Linked DNA regions of Homo sapiens. The protein of the gene in region 1 purifies or fractionates together with the protein of each later gene. This does not show direct contact. Each region holds a gene or a part of one and is shown in the gene's direction. Other genes may lie near its edges. The genes, in order: TAFA5, NEBL, TMEM67, PLTP and LNPEP.

Evidence for each region.
Region 2: the proteins of TAFA5 (region 1) and NEBL purify together in Homo sapiens (affinity purification with mass spectrometry; one large-scale study listed by BioGRID and IntAct). This does not show direct contact.
Region 3: the proteins of TAFA5 (region 1) and TMEM67 purify together in Homo sapiens (affinity purification with mass spectrometry; one large-scale study listed by BioGRID and IntAct). This does not show direct contact.
Region 4: the proteins of TAFA5 (region 1) and PLTP purify together in Homo sapiens (affinity purification with mass spectrometry; one large-scale study listed by BioGRID and IntAct). This does not show direct contact.
Region 5: the proteins of TAFA5 (region 1) and LNPEP purify together in Homo sapiens (affinity purification with mass spectrometry; one large-scale study listed by BioGRID and IntAct). This does not show direct contact.

Annotation. Positions count from the first base shown.
Region 1 is NC_000022.11:48,496,038-48,499,555, forward strand, and holds part of TAFA5 (chemokine-like protein TAFA-5 isoform 1 precursor), read left to right. Parts: intron 1-3,518. UniProt on the Homo sapiens protein: Acts as a chemokine-like protein by regulating cell proliferation and migration through activation of G protein-coupled receptors (GPCRs), such as S1PR2 and FPR2. Stimulates chemotactic migration of macrophages mediated by the MAPK3/ERK1 and AKT1 pathway.
Region 2 is NC_000010.11:20,890,805-20,894,322, reverse strand, and holds part of NEBL (nebulette), read left to right. Parts: intron 1-3,518. UniProt on the Homo sapiens protein: Binds to actin and plays an important role in the assembly of the Z-disk. May functionally link sarcomeric actin to the desmin intermediate filaments in the heart muscle sarcomeres.
Region 3 is NC_000008.11:93,778,876-93,782,393, forward strand, and holds part of TMEM67 (meckelin isoform 1 precursor), read left to right. Parts: intron 1-1,717; coding exon 1,718-1,872; intron 1,873-1,998; coding exon 1,999-2,107; intron 2,108-2,782; coding exon 2,783-2,869; intron 2,870-3,518. UniProt on the Homo sapiens protein: Required for ciliary structure and function. Part of the tectonic-like complex which is required for tissue-specific ciliogenesis and may regulate ciliary membrane composition.
Region 4 is NC_000020.11:45,902,155-45,905,672, reverse strand, and holds part of PLTP (phospholipid transfer protein isoform a precursor), read left to right. Parts: intron 1-554; coding exon 555-731; intron 732-813; coding exon 814-873; intron 874-3,068; coding exon 3,069-3,233; intron 3,234-3,338; coding exon 3,339-3,406; intron 3,407-3,518. UniProt on the Homo sapiens protein: Mediates the transfer of phospholipids and free cholesterol from triglyceride-rich lipoproteins (low density lipoproteins or LDL and very low density lipoproteins or VLDL) into high-density lipoproteins (HDL) as well as the exchange of phospholipids between triglyceride-rich lipoproteins themselves.
Region 5 is NC_000005.10:96,942,578-96,946,095, forward strand, and holds part of LNPEP (leucyl-cystinyl aminopeptidase), read left to right. Parts: intron 1-3,518. UniProt on the Homo sapiens protein: Release of an N-terminal amino acid, cleaves before cysteine, leucine as well as other amino acids. Degrades peptide hormones such as oxytocin, vasopressin and angiotensin III, and plays a role in maintaining homeostasis during pregnancy.

The DNA of each region.
Region 1 (3,518 bases):
GGCTTACTCCCTAAATGCAGTGGATGCAGGAAGGCATGGTGAGCTAGGCCAGAAAGTGCCCACCTCATGTCTTAGAGGATCCCCTGCTTCCTGAGGCATCCCCTGAGCATGCATCCCCATCCCCTCTCCAGTGCTGTGCGTGTGTGTTGTGGTGGCCACTGTCGGGGTCACTTTCTTCCTTGTTTTGGGCTGTGAGCTTGGGGCATGGCTGCTGGCCTCGGGGGACTGACTGTGGGCTCTCTGGACAGATGCTTTTGGTCACGGCATCTGCTGGGCAGTGAGCTGTTGGGCTGTGAGCTTGGGGCATGGCTGCTGGCCTCGGGGGACTGACTGTGGGCTCTCTGGACAGATGCTTTTGGTCACGGCATCTGCTGGGCAGTGAGCTGTACGGTGAGGCAGCCACAGGGAACCTCCCAGCTCTCAGTGGGCTGAAGCTCCAGAAGGTCACGTGGATGTGGAAACCCTTCTATACAATGATGTCAACCCTGCAGGCAGAGGAGCCAGGGGAGTCAGGGACGCCTGACCAGCTGTGGGGGACAGAGGAGGGCCCACTTGTGGTAGGCGATGTCTTCTGACGTCACCCACTCCACCCAGAGCTGGGCACAGAGGGGTCTGGCTCTACCTCTGCTGGGACTGCCTGCTCGTTTAGGGCGCTGTGTGGTCCTGGTTTGCAGGTGCACCGCAGGGAGAGTTGTGAAGGGCAGGCGGGGTGGTCCAGCCATCAGGGGCCCTGGTTTCCTGGGGGTTAACGGCGTAGGCTGTGCCACCTAAAGGCACATGCAGGAATCTGTCGCCCACAGCATCTTCATGCTTGGTTCAGGATCTCTGAATGAATATAGGAAAGAAAATACAGAGAAAGCAATACCACTAACACAGTAACAGGCTGCTGTGCTTGCATTTCACCTTCCAGAAAGAGGCTTGGCGCCCCCTCACCTCCCAGCCACCAGGGGAGGAGCTGCTGGACTGGAGGCCCCCTCCTTATGGGGAGCGGTGGGGCTGGTCCCGCACAGGGACTGCAGGCCTGCCTGCCTGACTCCAGGTCTGGGCTTCCTCCCGGTGCCAGCTCCACTCCCCACGGGCTCGGGGCTCCCCAGCAGTGGCCCATCCATGGAAATCAGCCCTGCCAGGGACCATGGCCCCGTTCCGCCCCCGCCTGCGGTGTTCCAGGCCGCGCCTCCCTCCTTCCCGTATGGGCGGACCTTGCCCTGGGTGGAGGGAGGACGCAGGGAGGAGAAGCCGGGGCCTGCGGTCCCACGGGGCCCGGCAGGGTTCTTCCATCTTCAGGGATGCTCCGCAGCCTCGCTGCTGGTTTCTGGGCCAGCCCCTTGCCCCTGTTTCTGCACTCGTAGAACAGCTCTAGAAAAGACGGCATTTCCGCCTCAGCGCAGCCAAGAAGCTTGAAAGACAAGACTGGAGTGTCCAGTGGCCAGGGGTCATCAGTCTGGGTTTAGGCCTGGGGGCGGGGCTGAGGCCTGGGGGCGGGGCTGAGGGTCAGAGGAGTAGCTGGAATCCTGGGGGCGGGGCTGAGGCCTGGGGGCGGGGCTGAGGGTCAGAGGAGTAGCTGGAATCCTGGGGGCGGGGCTGGAGGCCTGGGGGCGGGGCTGAGGGTCAGAGGAGTAGCTGGAATCCTGGGGGCGGGGCTGAGGCCTGGGGGCGGGGCTGAGGGTCAGAGGAGTAGCTGGAATCCTGGGGGCGGGGCTGGAGGCCTGGGGGCGGGGCTGAGGGTCAGAGGAGTAGCTGGAATCCTGGGGGCGGGGCTGAGGCCTGGGGGCGGGGCTGAGGGTCAGAGGAGTAGCTGGAATCCTGGGGGCGGGGCTGGAGGCCTGGGGGCGGGGCTGAGGGCAGGGGCAGGTTTGGAGGCCTGGAGGCGGGGCTGAAGGGTGGGGTGGGGCCCACCTGGAGGCGGGGCTGAAGAGTGGGGTGGGGCCCACCTGGAGGCGGGGCTGAAGAGTGGGGTGGGGCCCACCTGGAGGCGGGGCTGAAGAGTGGGCTGAGGGTAGGAGAGGCTGCAAGCCTAGGGGTGGGGCTGCAAGCCTGGGGGCGGGGCTGAAGGGGCAGGGCTGGGGGCCTGAAGGCGGGGCTGAAGAGTGGGGTGGGGCCCACCTGGAGGCGGGGCTGAAGAGTGGGCTGAGGGTAGGAGAGGCTGCAAGCCTAGGGGTGGGGCTGCAAGCCTGGGGGCGGGGCTGAAGGGGCAGGGCTGGGGGCCTGAAGGCGGGGCTGAAGAGTGGGGTGGGGCCCACCTGGAGGCGGGGCTGAAGAGTGGGCTGAGGGTAGGAGTGGCTGCAAGCCTAGGGGTGGGGCTGAAGAGGCAGGGGCTGGAGGGCTGCTGTCCTCTTGCAAACTAAGTCTCCTGGATTCCAAAGATATCTTTGGTTCTAACAGTTTGATTAATAATAATAATATGTGGAATACCTGGGAAGAGCTCAGAATTGGTAGGTATATTTAGTAGGACTTTTCTCGTTGCTAGAGTGGAAAACTCAAACCCTCCTTTTGGCCTCTTTTTCTGGACTTCTGCAGTGACAGCTCCCCAATCTTTGTTCTCGTTAAAGTTGCACTTGTTCCAATTTCTCCCAGTTCAGGGTTTCTCAGGGCAGCACTGGGGTCATTTAGAGCTGGGCCATGCTCTGTGGCAGGGGTCTGCCTGTACATGGCGGGGCTTTGCGAGCACCCCGGCCACCCCCCACTTGATGCCAGGGGCCCCTCCTCCCAGTTGTGACAACCAAAGATGTCTCTGGACCTTGCCGCCTGACCCTGGGACAATCAGCCCACTGGAAGCCCTGCTCTAGCGCACCTATACCTTGTCTGTGGCCCCAGCAAGCACACTTGTGCTGGTATTTCCTGGTGTGGACTCAATACCAGCAGGGTGGCAATCTTACAGTTTCTGGGTTTCTCCACTTCTGCAGCTGGACGGGCCAGCGTGGGGGTCTGAGGAAGTTCAGCCCAAGTCCCCGTCCCGTGCGTGTCCCTTGCCTCCCGTGACTGTTTCTCTGTGCAGAGACAGCTCCTGCAGGCTCAGTGCAGCCCCTCCCAGACCGGCGGAGCTGCTGGAAAGGCTGTCTGCCGGGAGGGAGGTGTCTCTGCACGTTTCCACACACTTCTGTTTCCAGAGCTTGGAATCAGCGCAGGGTTCACCAGTTGCTTGCAATCTCTTCTCTGTCTTAATTTCTCCGCATTTCACATGTAACCGTGCTGCCGATGGTGATGAAGCCATTTAGAGGCAATCAAACACTCCCGCACCGACGGCGGCGCCCATCAGCCTTTCCCCTCATCTTCCTGCTTGTTTCATTACGCCTGCCTTTCCAGGAGGTGGCTGAGTCCCCAAGTGTGATTTTTGGAGATTTCTGTGGTGTCTACAGCCCGCATTTCCTAAGTGGATTTCTCCCCAGGAAGTTCTGCTCTGCTGGTGGGACCCTTGGTTGCCTAGAGTTTGCTTTATGTCCATCTCTGCGCCTCCCCCAGCCTAGCACCGACGTGCCCTTCTGTTCTAGCCGGCTCCCCTGACTCTGGTCCCTGGTTCC
Region 2 (3,518 bases), on another chromosome or scaffold:
TTTCATTTTCTTTTTCGTAGAGATGGAGTCTCACTATGTTGCCCAGGCTGGTCTCAAGCTCTTGGCTTTAAGTGATTCTCCTGCATCGTTCTCCCAGAGTGCTGGGATTACAGGTGTGAGCCACCGGGCTGGCCCTGCTTCGTTTCTGTAGATGAGAGGGATGGTTTCATGGACTTCTCTTCATGGTGCAGCCTAATTGTTACTCTTTGGACTTCTTCCAGCTTTCATATATCCTTAATAACCAATATGTAATAATCAGAACTGTGCAGAGTGGTACAGATGTGGACGGTCTAGATCACGTGTAGAGCAGGATGATGTTTTGCTTAGCTTCTAGCACCCTTTATGATGCTATGAAGAGTTTCTTAGACTTGGGAGCTGCAGAAAGCTGTTAGATCAGCTTGATAATCTGTAGACCATCAGAGCCATTTCATTCCTAATTTCTGACCTGTAGCTGATAGCTTAGGACCCATCATCTTTAAATAATAGTTTGAATTATTTTAACCACACTAGGGCTAGATCTAATCTGTAGTTTTCTGCCCTCTTGCCTGGCCCTTTGAGAACTTCTGAAGTTCATCTCAGTTTGCCGTTTCCCTTACTGAGACAGCTTGGAGTCAGCAGACCTGTAGACACTGCTATATCATCCCCTTGTCAGACAATTTTATAGAAATGTTAAGCAAGATTGGCCTAGAGATCAGCCCTAGGAAGCCTGCACTGCTTAGAATTCTCCATAGAGAGAAATGTCCGTTTTTCAGGTCAAGTGGCTTCACTTTGGGCATCAGTATAAGGCATTTTTCTTTCTTTCTCTTTCTCCCCCCACCTAGTTTCTGCTTTGCACTTGCTCTACCCACATTATGGGGTTCCTCTTTGCACAACTCACTTCCCAGTCTTGAAGAACAGCTGGTCTTCTGAGGCAGCCTCTTTTATTTTTCTGTTAATCACATAATACTATTATTTTCTCAGATATATTTTCACAGATATTCTCTCTGTCATATTTATTCCTGTTAGTCTAACCTAACATTATCTAATCAATCCCTTGAATAAGTTAAACCTATCCTCTCTATTGAGCATTCAGAATCCTGGATCTAGTAGTCTTCTGATGGGGAGTCATAAAAAAGATTGGGCAAAAGGGAATCTTTTGTATGTTTCTTGTAGATTAGGCAGAAAGAGCCTTCTGCAGAGCAGGTGGACCACATCTGCATGCAGCCTCTCAGTGTTTAGTTCAAGGCTGTTTAGGGTGTTCATCTGCATGGCAGCAGGAAGAATATTTTCCAGGCAAATGAACGTTGTTGTGGGTAAATCCTTTCAATGCCAAAAACATTAAATTCTGTGGTTACTCCTCCAGAGAAAGCTTAGATGGTATCAGAAAACCTGGGAGAGTGATCTTAGCTATGTCCAGCCCAGTTAAATAATGATGGAGCCATTGTTTTTCCTTCCAGGGTGTATTGAATTTAACTTGTATGATTTCACTTGTGAAGAGCCTTTCCAGATACTTTCAGTTAAGAATTCTTGTGAAAGGAAAGATCCGCAAACATCTCCATGTCTGTCATCCGATTTCAGCCTTTAGCTAATCTCATACTCATTCAAACAAACTTGGCCAGGAGGAGGAAGCGACCCTGCACTAAATTCATCCTAATTGTAATGGAGACGTGGGATTTGTGGGTGAGGGCAAAAGAGAAGGTCAATGTTTGGGACATCTTAATGATCATAAAGTCATCAATTTTGCCCTTTTTGTCTTTTGGTGTTGGGTTGTGTATTCGGTAGGAGTGCAGATGACTGTAAAAACAGGAAAACTCTAACACAATGGCTTAACAAGTAGGTTTTTGTTTCCCCAGCCTCCACATATAAAGCCCGGAGGTAGGTAGTTCAGGCTGGGTACTATGGGTGTTATCAGTCTCCCAGGCTCCTTTCCTTCTATTCTGTCGTCATTAGTATGGTGGCTTATTCCTTGGTAATGACATCATTGCTGCTGCCTTCCCTTTGATTGAGAAAGAAAAATGTGGAAGACAGAATGTCACAGGGTTGTGCAGCATCTCTCCCTTTGTACCAGAAACACTAGAAGCACTTCTGGGAAGATTTCCACTAAAGTCACAGAGAGTGTGGCTCCCCAGGCCAAACACTGGATGGCATGACCATGCCTGGTTTAGATCAGCTTGTCCTCTGGGGCTGGGCAGGAGCCTGGCTGCTCTCATTAATCCATCTGGGCTCTTTTAATAGGAGATAATGGGAGTGGCCAGTCTATCCAATAGATGGTGTCAACCCGAAATTGTAAGATGTAGACATGGCTGTAATAAAATATAGCAATCTATTCAGTGATTTTTATTTTACCTAAGATTTGTTTCATTGACCAATATAGTTCCCTTTCAATGATCATTTCCTGTTATCTTGGTGTAGGAAGGCTACTAATATGTATCTAATATTTATATAAATATTCCTTATGTATTTAAAAATCTAACATTCTTTGCTTATTGTCATTCATATTGCACAATTCACTTGAAATCACACATGATTGTGTGTGACTTCTAACAAATTGTACAATTTCTCTTGAATTGTACAATTGTAAAGGATCTTAAATTTTAAATACACCTTCATTTAAAATATACAAATATGTGTATCTTTTTAATAAAGACCCAAGAAAAAAAAATAGAGTCTACAATTAAGACTGAGCTATTTGTCTGCCTAACAGAAGAAGTAAATACCTCACCCTTATCCAGTCCTCCTGTCCTGAACGTTCTGCATGTGTCAGACTTTATCAGGAGGCTGTAGCCACAAGCACATACCACTGCAGTGAAGAATGTGAATGTGATGGGGAATAGATGGTGGCAAAAGATAAAAATAATGAGTCAAACTTAAGCCTAATGATAGGCTATTTTCTCTCACACTTAATTATATAACGGAGATACTTTTTTCTCCATATGATCAAAATAGCCTACTATTTATCATACTGCCATTAACAGTTTAATTACTAGTGGCTGAGGAGGGTGATTTGCAGGAACCTAAAATTATGGCTAATCTCTGAGAAGAAAAAAAAGTAATTTAGTGCTCAGATAAGATAAATATGTTCTCGTGTTGATTTCATGAATAAAGCAAATGTTTAATGTGGTAGGCATCTGATATCCAAGAGTCACAGCAGTGAAATATGGGATTTTGAAATAACTTCACTTAATCTGTATCTAGTTCTACCACAGGTTAAGTAATGCCCGTCAAATCAGGCTTGCATATGGGAAAATCTCCATGTACCATTAGTGTATAACATCAATATTATTCACATCCTCTAAGAACCAGGTAGTATATACAATTCAGCTCCACTTTTGGGTTATAATTAGGGAGAACATATAATTTATCATCTGAAACAGGAACACTTTTTCAGTTTAAGTATTTATGGTCTTGGGAGGATAAACACGAGCATATTACAGAGTGATACAACTTTTAGCAAATTACCTGCATCTTCTCAATGAGTCATAGTTTTGCCTTCCCAGTTTCCAGATTGTGCAGCAATTAGTGTGACAGTGTGATTATAC
Region 3 (3,518 bases), on another chromosome or scaffold:
ATTTCCTGAATTTGAATGTTGGCCTGCCTTGCTAGGTTGGGGAAGTTCTCCTGGATAATATCCTGAAGAGTGTCTTCCAACTTGGTTCCATTTTCCCCATCACTTTCAGGTACACCAATCAAACATAGATTTGGTCTTTTCACATAGTCCCATATTTCTTGGAGGCTTTGCTCATTTCTTTTTAGTCTTTTTTCTCTAACCTTGTCGTCTCGCTTTATTTCATTAATTTGATCTTCAATTACTGATACCCTTTCTTCCACTTGACCAAATCGGCTACTGAAGCTTGTGCATGCATCACATAGTTCTTGTGCCATGTCTTTTAGCTCCATCAGGTCATTTAAGGTCTTCTCTACACTGTTTATTCTAGTTAGCCATTTGTCTAATCTTTTTTCAAGGTTTTTAGCTTCCTTCCGACGGGTTCGAACATCCTCCTTTAGCTCAGAGAAGTTTGTTATTACCGACCTTCTGAAGCGTACTTCTGTCAGTTTGTCAAAGTCATTCTCCATCCAGCTTTGTTCTGTTGCTGGTGAGGAGCTGCATTCCTTTGGAAGAGAGGAGGCACTCTGGTTTTTAGAATTTTCAGCTTTTCTGCTCTGGTTTCTCCCCATCTTTATGGTTTTACCTACCTTTGGTCTTTGATGTTGGTGACCTACAGATGGGGTTTTGATGTGGATGGGGTTTTGATGTGGATGTCCTTTTTGTTGATGTTGATGCTATTCCTTTCTATTTGTTAGTTTTCCTTCTAACAGGTCCCTCAGCTGCAGGTCTGTTGGAGTTTGCTAGAGGTCCACTCCAGACGCTGTTTTCCTGGATATTACCAGCGGAGGTTGTAGAACAGCAAATATTGCTGCCTGATCCTTCCTCTGGAAGCTTCGTCCCAGAGGGGCGCCCACCTGTATGAGGTGTCTGTCGGCCCCTACTGGGAGGTGTCTCCCAGTTAGGCTACACAGGGTCAGGGATCCACTTGAGGAGGCAGTCTATCCATTCTCTGAGCTCAAACGCTGTGCTGGGAGAACCACTGCTCTCTTCAGAGCTGTCAGACAGGGATGTTTAACTCTGCAGAAGTTTCTGGTGCCTTTTGTTCAGCTATGCCCTGCTGCCAGAGGTGGAGTCAACAGAGGCAGCAGGCCTTGCTGAACTGCGGTGGGCTCCACCCAGTTGGAGCTTCCCCGGCTGCTTTGTTTTCCTACTCAAGCCTCAGCAATGGCAGACACCCCTCCCCCTGCCAGCCTGCTGCCTGGCAGGTTGATCTCAGCTGTGCTAGCAGTGAGCAAGGCTCTGTAGGCGTGGGACCCACCGAGCCAGGCGTGGGATGTAATCTGGTGTGCCGTTTGCTAAGACCATTGGAAAAGCGCAGTGTTTAGGTGGAGGTGTCCCATTTTTCCAGGTACAGTCTGTCACGGCTTCCCTTGGCTAGGAAAGGGAAATCCCCCAACCCCTTGCGCTTCCTGGGTGAGGTGATGCCCCACCCTGCTTCAGCTTGCCCTCCATGGGCTGCACCCACTGTCCAACCAGTCCCAATGAGATGAACCAGGTATCTCAGTTGGAAATGCAGAAATCACCTGCCTTCTGCGTTGATTATGCTGGGAGCTGCAGACCGGAGCTGTTCCTACTCGGCCATCTTGGAACAGACCTGCACAAAGTAAAATTTTTATATCAACTTTTGCATAGACTGTTCAGGTTCATGTTACTTTTCTTTGCCATTGTTCTGTTGTAGGTATATGCCAATCTAACATCTTGTCAAGCTCTTGGAAATATGTGTGTGATGAACATGAATTCTTACGACTTTGCCACATTTGATGCATGTGGACTATTTCAGTTTATCTTTGAAAATACTGCTGGACTGAGCACTGTTCATTCTATTTCATTTTGGTAAGGATATTTTGATTGATGAAATGTTATTTTGACTGAATTCAGTGCAGTTATTAATATATTCACAAATACTAATAATAAGAAATATTTATTCTCCATTATTAAAACAGTTGTAACTGTTTATAGGAGACAGAATCTTCCTTGGCTGTTTTATGGAGACCAGTTAGGATTAGCACCTCAAGTGCTCAGTTCTACCTCTCTTCCTACAAATTTCAGTTTTAAAGGAGAAAACCAGGTAAAAGTGTCTAATATCATTAGAGGATAACTACATTTTGATTTATAATTTTAAAAGGTAATAAAGTTACAATTCTTGCCTTTTTAGGTTGTTGGTACAAACTCAGTTACTAAACTAAATATAAATGTCAACAACTCATAAGAACTAAATAGTATAGAGTTTAGCTATCTTACTGAATATGTGGATACTTCTGGATTGTGTGGTTATGGCAAGAAGTTGTACTTGTAGGGTTGGGAAGAGCAGTTTTCATCACCAAATGCAAAAAATCTCTGTCCTGTTTTTTCCACACCTTAAAGAAGTGCTTCCAAAGATTGATTGGGGCTCTGTGACATTGCTCAGCACTTCACAGGGCCAAATTCCTACCTGTAACTTTTTGACCTTCCAGAATGAGGAGATACTATTCTCCCACACTGCCTCCTATTTAACAGGTTCAAAAGGAGGCTATCTGTCACTAGTGCTGCCTCTCAATTCTAGAATAATAATTTTCATGCAAAAAACCAGTCTAATTCTTTCAGGTCTATTTAGTCATAGAAATAGATTAATTGAACCTCAAAATAAAGATAATTGAATGTAATTTTTCAACAAAAAAGATCAGTCAACAATGAAAATTTCTTTATAGGATATTGTATTACTTTCAGAGTATTTGACCTGATTTTGCTCGTTTTCTTTAATCAGAATACAAAACTGAAGTTTGTTGCTGCTTCCTATGATATAAGAGGAAATTTTCTCAAGTGGCAAACTTTAGAAGGAGGTGTTTTACAGGTAAGCATGATTCTAGTTAAAGAATTAATAACATGCATTATTTTTGCCTGAGACAAAGCCAAGAGGAAAAGATTATTGTATGAATAAAGCATCAGTTACATACTACAGTTGATTTTTTTTCTGATGCTTTAAATTAGACTTTCTTAAGTTTTTTGTTTGTTTGTTTGTTTGTTTGTTTTTTCTTTTTTTTTTGAGATGGAGTCTCGCTTTCTTAACCAGGCTGGAGTGCAGTGGCGCGATCTCAGCTCACTACAAGCTCCGCCTTGCGGGTTCACGCCATTCTCCTGCTTCAGCTGGGAGCTGGAACTACAGGCGACTGCCACCACGTCCAGCTAATTTTTATGTACTTTTAGTAGAGACGGGATTTCACCATGTTAGCCAGGATGGTCTTGATCTCCTGACCTCGTGATCCGCCCTTCTTGGCCTCCCAAAGCGCTGGGATTGCAGGCATGAGCCACCATGCCTGGCTAAGTTTTATTTCTTTAAAGTTATGACTTTCATTTATAACAGATGTTCCCTTAACTTTTCATATCCTTGATACATTAAATAAGTATTATGTAGAGCATATATCCATGTTCGGGTTTGAGAACTCTTGAGTATAAGAATAGAAAACATTTGTGAGATTTATCTGTTGTATTATTTTGCTGCA
Region 4 (3,518 bases), on another chromosome or scaffold:
GCCCAGGAGTTTGAGACCAGCTTGGGCATCATAGTGAGACCTCCTTCTCTACAAAGAGAAAAAGAATGCCTGAAGTTCAAATCCTAGCTCTGCCACTGACTAGCTGCACGGCCCTAAGCATAAGTTTTCAGTTGGCCAGTTTCCTAACATGTAAATGGAAATAATCTAGTAAGAAAACACACGTTGTTATGCAGATTAAAGAAGTCGATCTATGTGAAGAGCTTAGAGTACTTGGCAAAGAAGCATGAGTATGCACAATATATGTAAACAGTAGCTGTTGTTACTGCCTCTAGCTTTCAAGGCCCACTCAGATGTCACCTCTTCCCTGAAACCTTTCCTGACCCTCCCTCCTCCAGTCTGACGGGCTCGCCCCCTGGTAGCAGGTGTCCTCCTTCCAATGCCTTTTAAGAGATGTGCTTGTGAATCCTCCAAGAACAGCAGCTGGGTTCCCACCATCCCCCCACAGTGCCTAGCACGGGGCTGGGAGACACCTGCTGTCAGTCCAGGTGCCAGGCCAGTCTGCCTTGACCCTGACTGTGAATGCCCCACCCCAGGGGGCCTTCTTCCCCCTGACTGAGAGGAACTGGAGCCTCCCCAACCGGGCAGTGGAGCCCCAGCTGCAGGAGGAAGAGCGGATGGTGTATGTGGCCTTCTCTGAGTTCTTCTTCGACTCTGCCATGGAGAGCTACTTCCGGGCGGGGGCCCTGCAGCTGTTGCTGGTGGGGGACAAGGTATGTCATGGCCTGTTTGTGGGATGGGCAAGAGAAGGTCTGTGACAGAGCTCACTCCCTCACTCCTGATTCCCCTGTTCAGGTGCCCCACGACCTGGACATGCTGCTGAGGGCCACCTACTTTGGGAGCATTGTCCTGCTGGTGAGTGCTGGCGGGGGCAGGGATAGGGCCACCTGCACACCAGTGAGACCAAGGAGGGGTGCAGGTGGGGCCCCCAGTGGCAGCCACGCAGACAGGGCCCTGGCCTCTTGTCTGTGGCCAATCCCCCTCGCCTTGTCATGGCTGTTCCTGTCTGTGAAGCGGTCTGCTCCTTCCTGCTCCTTCCTGCCCCATCTCCTTCGCAGAGCTGCTGTGAGGATTAGTGAGAACCCAAGCTTTGCAAGTGTGAGGGCTTTAATAATAATTCACATATACTTTTGTTTATTTGTGTATTGGGGAGGAGAGTAAGAGTTACACATTTTATTTATTTTTTTTTTTGAGACAAGAGTCTCACTTTGTCACCCAAGTTGGAATGCAGTGGCACAATCTAGGCTCACTGCAACCTCTGCCTCCCAGGGCTCAAGCCATCCTCCTGCTTCAGCCTCTTGAGTAGCTGGAATTACAGGCTTGTGCCACCACACCCCGCTAATTTTTATATTTTGTTGAGACAGAGTTTCATTATGTTGCTCAGGCTGTCCTTGAACTCCTGGGCTCAAGTGATCACCCATTTTTGGCCTCCCAAAGTGCTAGGATTACAGGTGTGAGCCACCGCACCTAGCAGAATTACAAATTTTAAAAGAAATAATTCAGTCATTATCATCATCCAATTTATGGCAGGGCAGGGTCTCTATTGTCAGACTGCCTGGGCTTCAAGCCTAGTTCTGAAACTGAGTAACTACATAACCTCTACAAGTTACTTAACCTATCTGTGCCTCAATTTCCCCATCTCAAAAATGGGGATATGGCTGGGCATGATGGCTCACGCCTATACTCTGAGAACTTTGAGAGGTCAAGGTAGGAAAATTGCTTGAGCCCAGGAGTTTGAGACCAGCCTGGGCAACACAGTGAGACACTGTCTCTATTGAAAAATAAATTTTTAGTCAGATCTTTTTTTTTCGGTGGGGGGACAAAGTCTCACTCTGTCACCCAGGCTGGAGTGCAGTGGCGCAATCTTGGCTCACTGCAATTGAACCTCCCGGGTTCAAGCAATTCTCTGCCATGACGACTCAGCCTGAAAAATAAATTTGTAAAAAATAACAACAACAAAATTGGCAGTAATAATATCGGCCTCACATGGTTATTATGAGGTTTAAAGGAACCAACACATATACAGTGTTTAGAATCATGTTTGGTGAAGATTAGGCAGTTGCATCTTATAGTATTCCTTCACTGCCTATAGAAGAAGGCATAGCAGTTTAGAGAAAGAAGATATGGCCAGGCACGGTGGCTCACGCCTGTAATCCCAACACTGTGGGAGGCTGAAGCCGGCAGATCACTTGAGCCCAGGAGTTTGAGACCAGCATGGGCAACATGGCCAAACCCCGTCTCTACGAAAACACAAAAGCAAAAACCAAAACAAAAAACAAATACAAAAATAAGCCAGGCGTGATGGCATGAACCTGTGGTCTCAGCTGTTCAGGAGGCTGATGTGGCAGGATAATTTGAGCTGAGGAGGTTGAGGCTGCAGTGAGCCGTGATCATGCCACTGCACTCCAGCCTGGGCAACAGAGACCCTGTCTCAAAAAAAAAGGAGAGAGAGAGCAAAAAGATATGGCAAGGGGTTTGGGTGTGGTGGCTCATGCCTGTAATCCCAGCACTTTGGGAGGCCGAGGTGGGCGAATCACTAGCCTGGCCAATATGGCGAAACCCCGTTTCTATTAAAAATACAAAACTTAGCCGGGCATGGCGGCAGGTGCCTGTAATCTCAGCTACTTGGGAGGCTGAGGCGGGAGAATCGCCTGAACCTGGGAGACAGAGTTGCAGTGAGCCGAGATTGTGCCACTGCACTCCAGCCTGGGCAACAAAGTGAGACTCCATATCAAAAACAGAAGACATGGCAAGGGCTGAGATACTAATGCAAAAAGGACATCCACAAAGAGTCTGGATTGGAGATAGACCTGAATATTGAGATGTATTTAGGAAGCAGAAAGAGAAGAACACATTCCTGTTTCTTTGTGTGGCAAAGGCATGAAGGCTAGATGCAGATGTGAGAGTTTTGGAAGCCAGAGCTCCCTCTGTATTTGCAATATGAGAGTCCCCAGAGGACAGAAGCTGCACCTGCCTTCCTTCCCCTTCTTCCCTGGGGGCTCCAAAGGAAATGGCAGGGACTTGACCCGCCCCTGCTGCTCATCCCCCAGAGCCCAGCAGTGATTGACTCCCCATTGAAGCTGGAGCTGCGGGTCCTGGCCCCACCGCGCTGCACCATCAAGCCCTCTGGCACCACCATCTCTGTCACTGCTAGCGTCACCATTGCCCTGGTCCCACCAGACCAGCCTGAGGTCCAGCTGTCCAGCATGACTATGGTACGGGTCCCAGAGTGGGGGCTGCTGGCTGGGGGTCAGGGAAAAATGGGCTGTGGGTTACTGACCTTCTGGGTCAGTAACATCCTCCTCCCCATGTTCCTGCAGGACGCCCGTCTCAGCGCCAAGATGGCTCTCCGGGGGAAGGCCCTGCGCACGCAGCTGGACCTGCGCAGGTAGGCAGGCGCACTTCCCTGCACCTCAGTGATTGGAGGACAATCACACCTGTCCACAGGGATGTTGCGCTTAAAGTACAGTGATACCTGTAAGCCACTGAGAGCTGGGGTC
Region 5 (3,518 bases), on another chromosome or scaffold:
CAGGAGGCGGAGGTTGCAGTGAGCCGAGATCGTGCCACTGCATTCCAGCCTGGTGACAGAGCGAGACTCCATCTCAAAAAAAAAAAAAAAAAAATACGAGAACACTTGGACACAGGGTGGGGAACACCACACACTGGGGCCTGTCATGGAGTCGGGGGAGGGGGGAGGGATAGCATTAGGAGATATACCTAGTGTAAATGACGACTTAATTGGTGCAGCACACCAACATAGCACATGTATACATATGTAACAAACCTGCACGTTGTGCACATGTACCCTAGAACTTAAAGTATAATAAAAAAATAAATAAATAAAAAGAATCACTCTAACGAGCTGCAAGGTAAAATCCTTGGAGAAGGTGTGTGCCGACTTGATCAATGGATCAAAGGAAAAGAATCTAAAGTGATAGGACCAGTTTGAATGCCTACCAAGACTTTGAGAAACATTACAAGAAAAACTTCTTATGAAGGTTCTGAGACATGGTATTGTTTCCAGATGAGAATCCATAAGTGACTCATTGACTTCCACAGTCTTTCTGAGATTGTTAAGCAGATTACTTCCATCATTATTGAGCCAGGAGTTGAGGTTGAAGTCACCATTGCAGATGCTTAAGTCAACTATTTTAATAAATGATTACCAGTTGTTTAAAAAAAAAAAAAAGAAAACTATAGAGAGCTATCTACCTTTTGGGACTACCATGGTAGCAGTCATTTGCTGTTCCTTTTTTTGGGAGGGACGGGAACAGGGTCTTGCTTGGCTGGAGTGCAGTGGCACGGCCACAGCACTGCAGCCTTGACTTCTCAGGCTCAAGCGATTCTCCTGCCTCAGCCTCCCGAGTAACTGGGACCACAGGTGCACACCACCATGCCTGGCTAATTTTTGTATTTTTTGTAGAGATGGAGTTTTGCCATGTTGGCCAGGCTGGTCTCGAACTCCTGGGCTCCAATGTTCTGCCTGTCTTGACCTCCCCAAGTGCTGGTACTATAGGTGTGAGCCAGTGCGGCCCTGTGGCCAGCCTACTATTCTTTATAGCCTGGCTTTGCTTCACTTTTCTACTGGTGCTTGTGATAGAACAATGAACCAATTAATTTTTTTAAAATTCCATCCTTAACATGTAAATGAGGAGGAAACCAGGTCATTTGCCAAATAAGGAAAATTCAAGCTTCCAAGGGAGTTTCAAAAAACAATGGAGGATCAAGTTCAATTGTAGGAGACTTTTTGAAATTCTTTTTCTTCTAATACATATTGCTTAATGAAGGTACTCCTGGGCATTCCACATATTTCAAAAATGTAGTCACTGAACCAGAACTTGAATCAGTTGTCTGAATTTCTCTGGATTGTGGGGCTCAGAGTCTTCTCCAGCCAATGATCTGGGGTGAAGGAAGTTAAAGAAGGCTTCTTCAACTGAGGGAACAGAAGAATGAGGAGTGCAGTGAGAAAAGGATGCCTCTATGGGTTGGGTGTGCTCCCTTCCTCTTGCAGCAAGTGATGAACAGTGCTATGTGGGAGCATTTCCCGGACAACTGACTCAGGTGTCATTCAGTGCCATAGAGAAAATTTCTGGTAAGGAAGGAGGCTTAAGCCATAGTATTTCTCACAGCTGAAACTGTTATTTTGTCAAATTTAAAACAGTTGTTAGTATATTCATCAATGAAACATCATTACATTGTCAATGAAACATTTCATTGTCAATGAAAAGAGTCAAACTGTAAAATCTTTAAAGAGGCTTATTCTGAGATAAATAATGTGTGACCAAGGCCCAAAGCACAGTCTCAAGAAGTCCTGAGAACATGTGCCCAACATGGTTGGGTTACAGCTTGATGTTATACATTTTAGGGAGACAGAAGTTATAGGCAGACAACAATCAATACATGTAAAGTGTACATTGGCTCAGTCTGGAAAGGGGATAACTCAAAGCGGGGACTTCTATTCCAGTTCATAGGTGGATTCAAAGATTTTCTTTTTTGTTTTTCTTATTTTTGCTTTTTTTTTTTTTTTTTTTTTTTTTTGAGACAGAGTCTCATTCTGTCACCCAGACTGGAGTGCAGTGGTGCAATCTCAGCTCACTGCAAACTCCGCCGCCCAGGTTCAAGCAATTCTTGTGCCTCAGCCTCCTGAGTAGCTGGGATTATAGGCATGTTGCCACCACACCCAGCTAATTTTTGTGTTTTTTCAGTAGAGATGAGATTTCGCCATATTGCCCAGGGTGGTCTTGAACTCCTGGCCTCAAGTCATCACCCACCTCAGCCTCCCAAAGTGCTGGGATTACAGGCATGAGCCACACATGTGGCCACATTCAAAGATTTTCTGATTGGCAGTTGGTCGAAATAATTAAGTTATTATCTAAAGACCTGGAATCCATAGAAAGGAGTGTCTGGGTTAAGATAAGGTAAGGGGTCATGGAGACCAGGGTTCTTAATATGTAGACGAAGCCTCCAGGTAGCAGGCTTTCAGAGAATAGATGGTTATTATCTCTTATCAGAACGTAAAATGTGCCAGACTCTTAGTTAAATCTCTCCTGGATCAAAAAAAGACCTGGGGTGGTGCAGTGGCTCACACCTGTAATCCTAGCACTTTGGGAGGCCAAGGCAGGAAGATTGCTTGAGGCCAGCAGTTCAAGACCAGCCTGGGCAACATAGTGAGAGCCTGTCTCTACAAAAAAATTAAAAATTAAAAAAAAAAATTAGTCAGGTGTGATGGTATGCACCTGTGGTCCCAGCTGCTTGAGAGGCTGAGGTGAAAGGATCACTTGAGCCTGGGCAAAGTGGAAGTGAGCTGTGGTCATGCCACTGCACTGCAGCCTGGGCAAGAGAGTGAGACCCTATCTCAAAAAAAAAAAAAAAAAAAGAGATCAGAAAGGTCTTTTTCTATAGAATGTTCCACACAAGAGACAGCTTTGCAGGGCCATTTCAAAATAGGTCTAAGAAATATATTTTGGGGTAAAATACCTTTATTTCTTTCACAGCCTGCTATCTGTTGTGTGATGTTATACTAGAGTCAGTTTAGAATTTGGTATTTTATTGCTACAAAGAGTGTTTCGTCAGTCTTAAGATCTCTGTTTTAATATTAATGCTGGTCAGTTGTGCCAGAATTCCAAAGGGAGGAGAGTATAATGAGGTGCGTCTGACCCCCGCTTCCCATCATAGCCTGAGCTAGTTTTTCATGTTTACTTTGGAATGCCCTTGGCCGTTCAGTCAGAGGGGTCCATTCGGTCAGTTGAGGGGCCTAGAATTTTATTTTTGGTTTACAAAATCATTCCAAGATCCTCTTTAGAGGAAAAATTTATAGAGATTAGTGGGAATGATGAGGAGAACTCAATCTTGAGAGCTCAATCAAAAGGAGATGTTTAAATATCTTTTTAAGTTGGTATTGGTAAAGTGCTTTGAAGACAGAAAGAATGTAATACATGTCTGGTGTCTGCTTGTCCTATAATTGTCGGAAGGGCCTCAATGATGAAATAAGGGAGGCTGCCATGACACTTGAGTCTTGGTGAGAGGAGCTAGTGTGTCCACATTTAT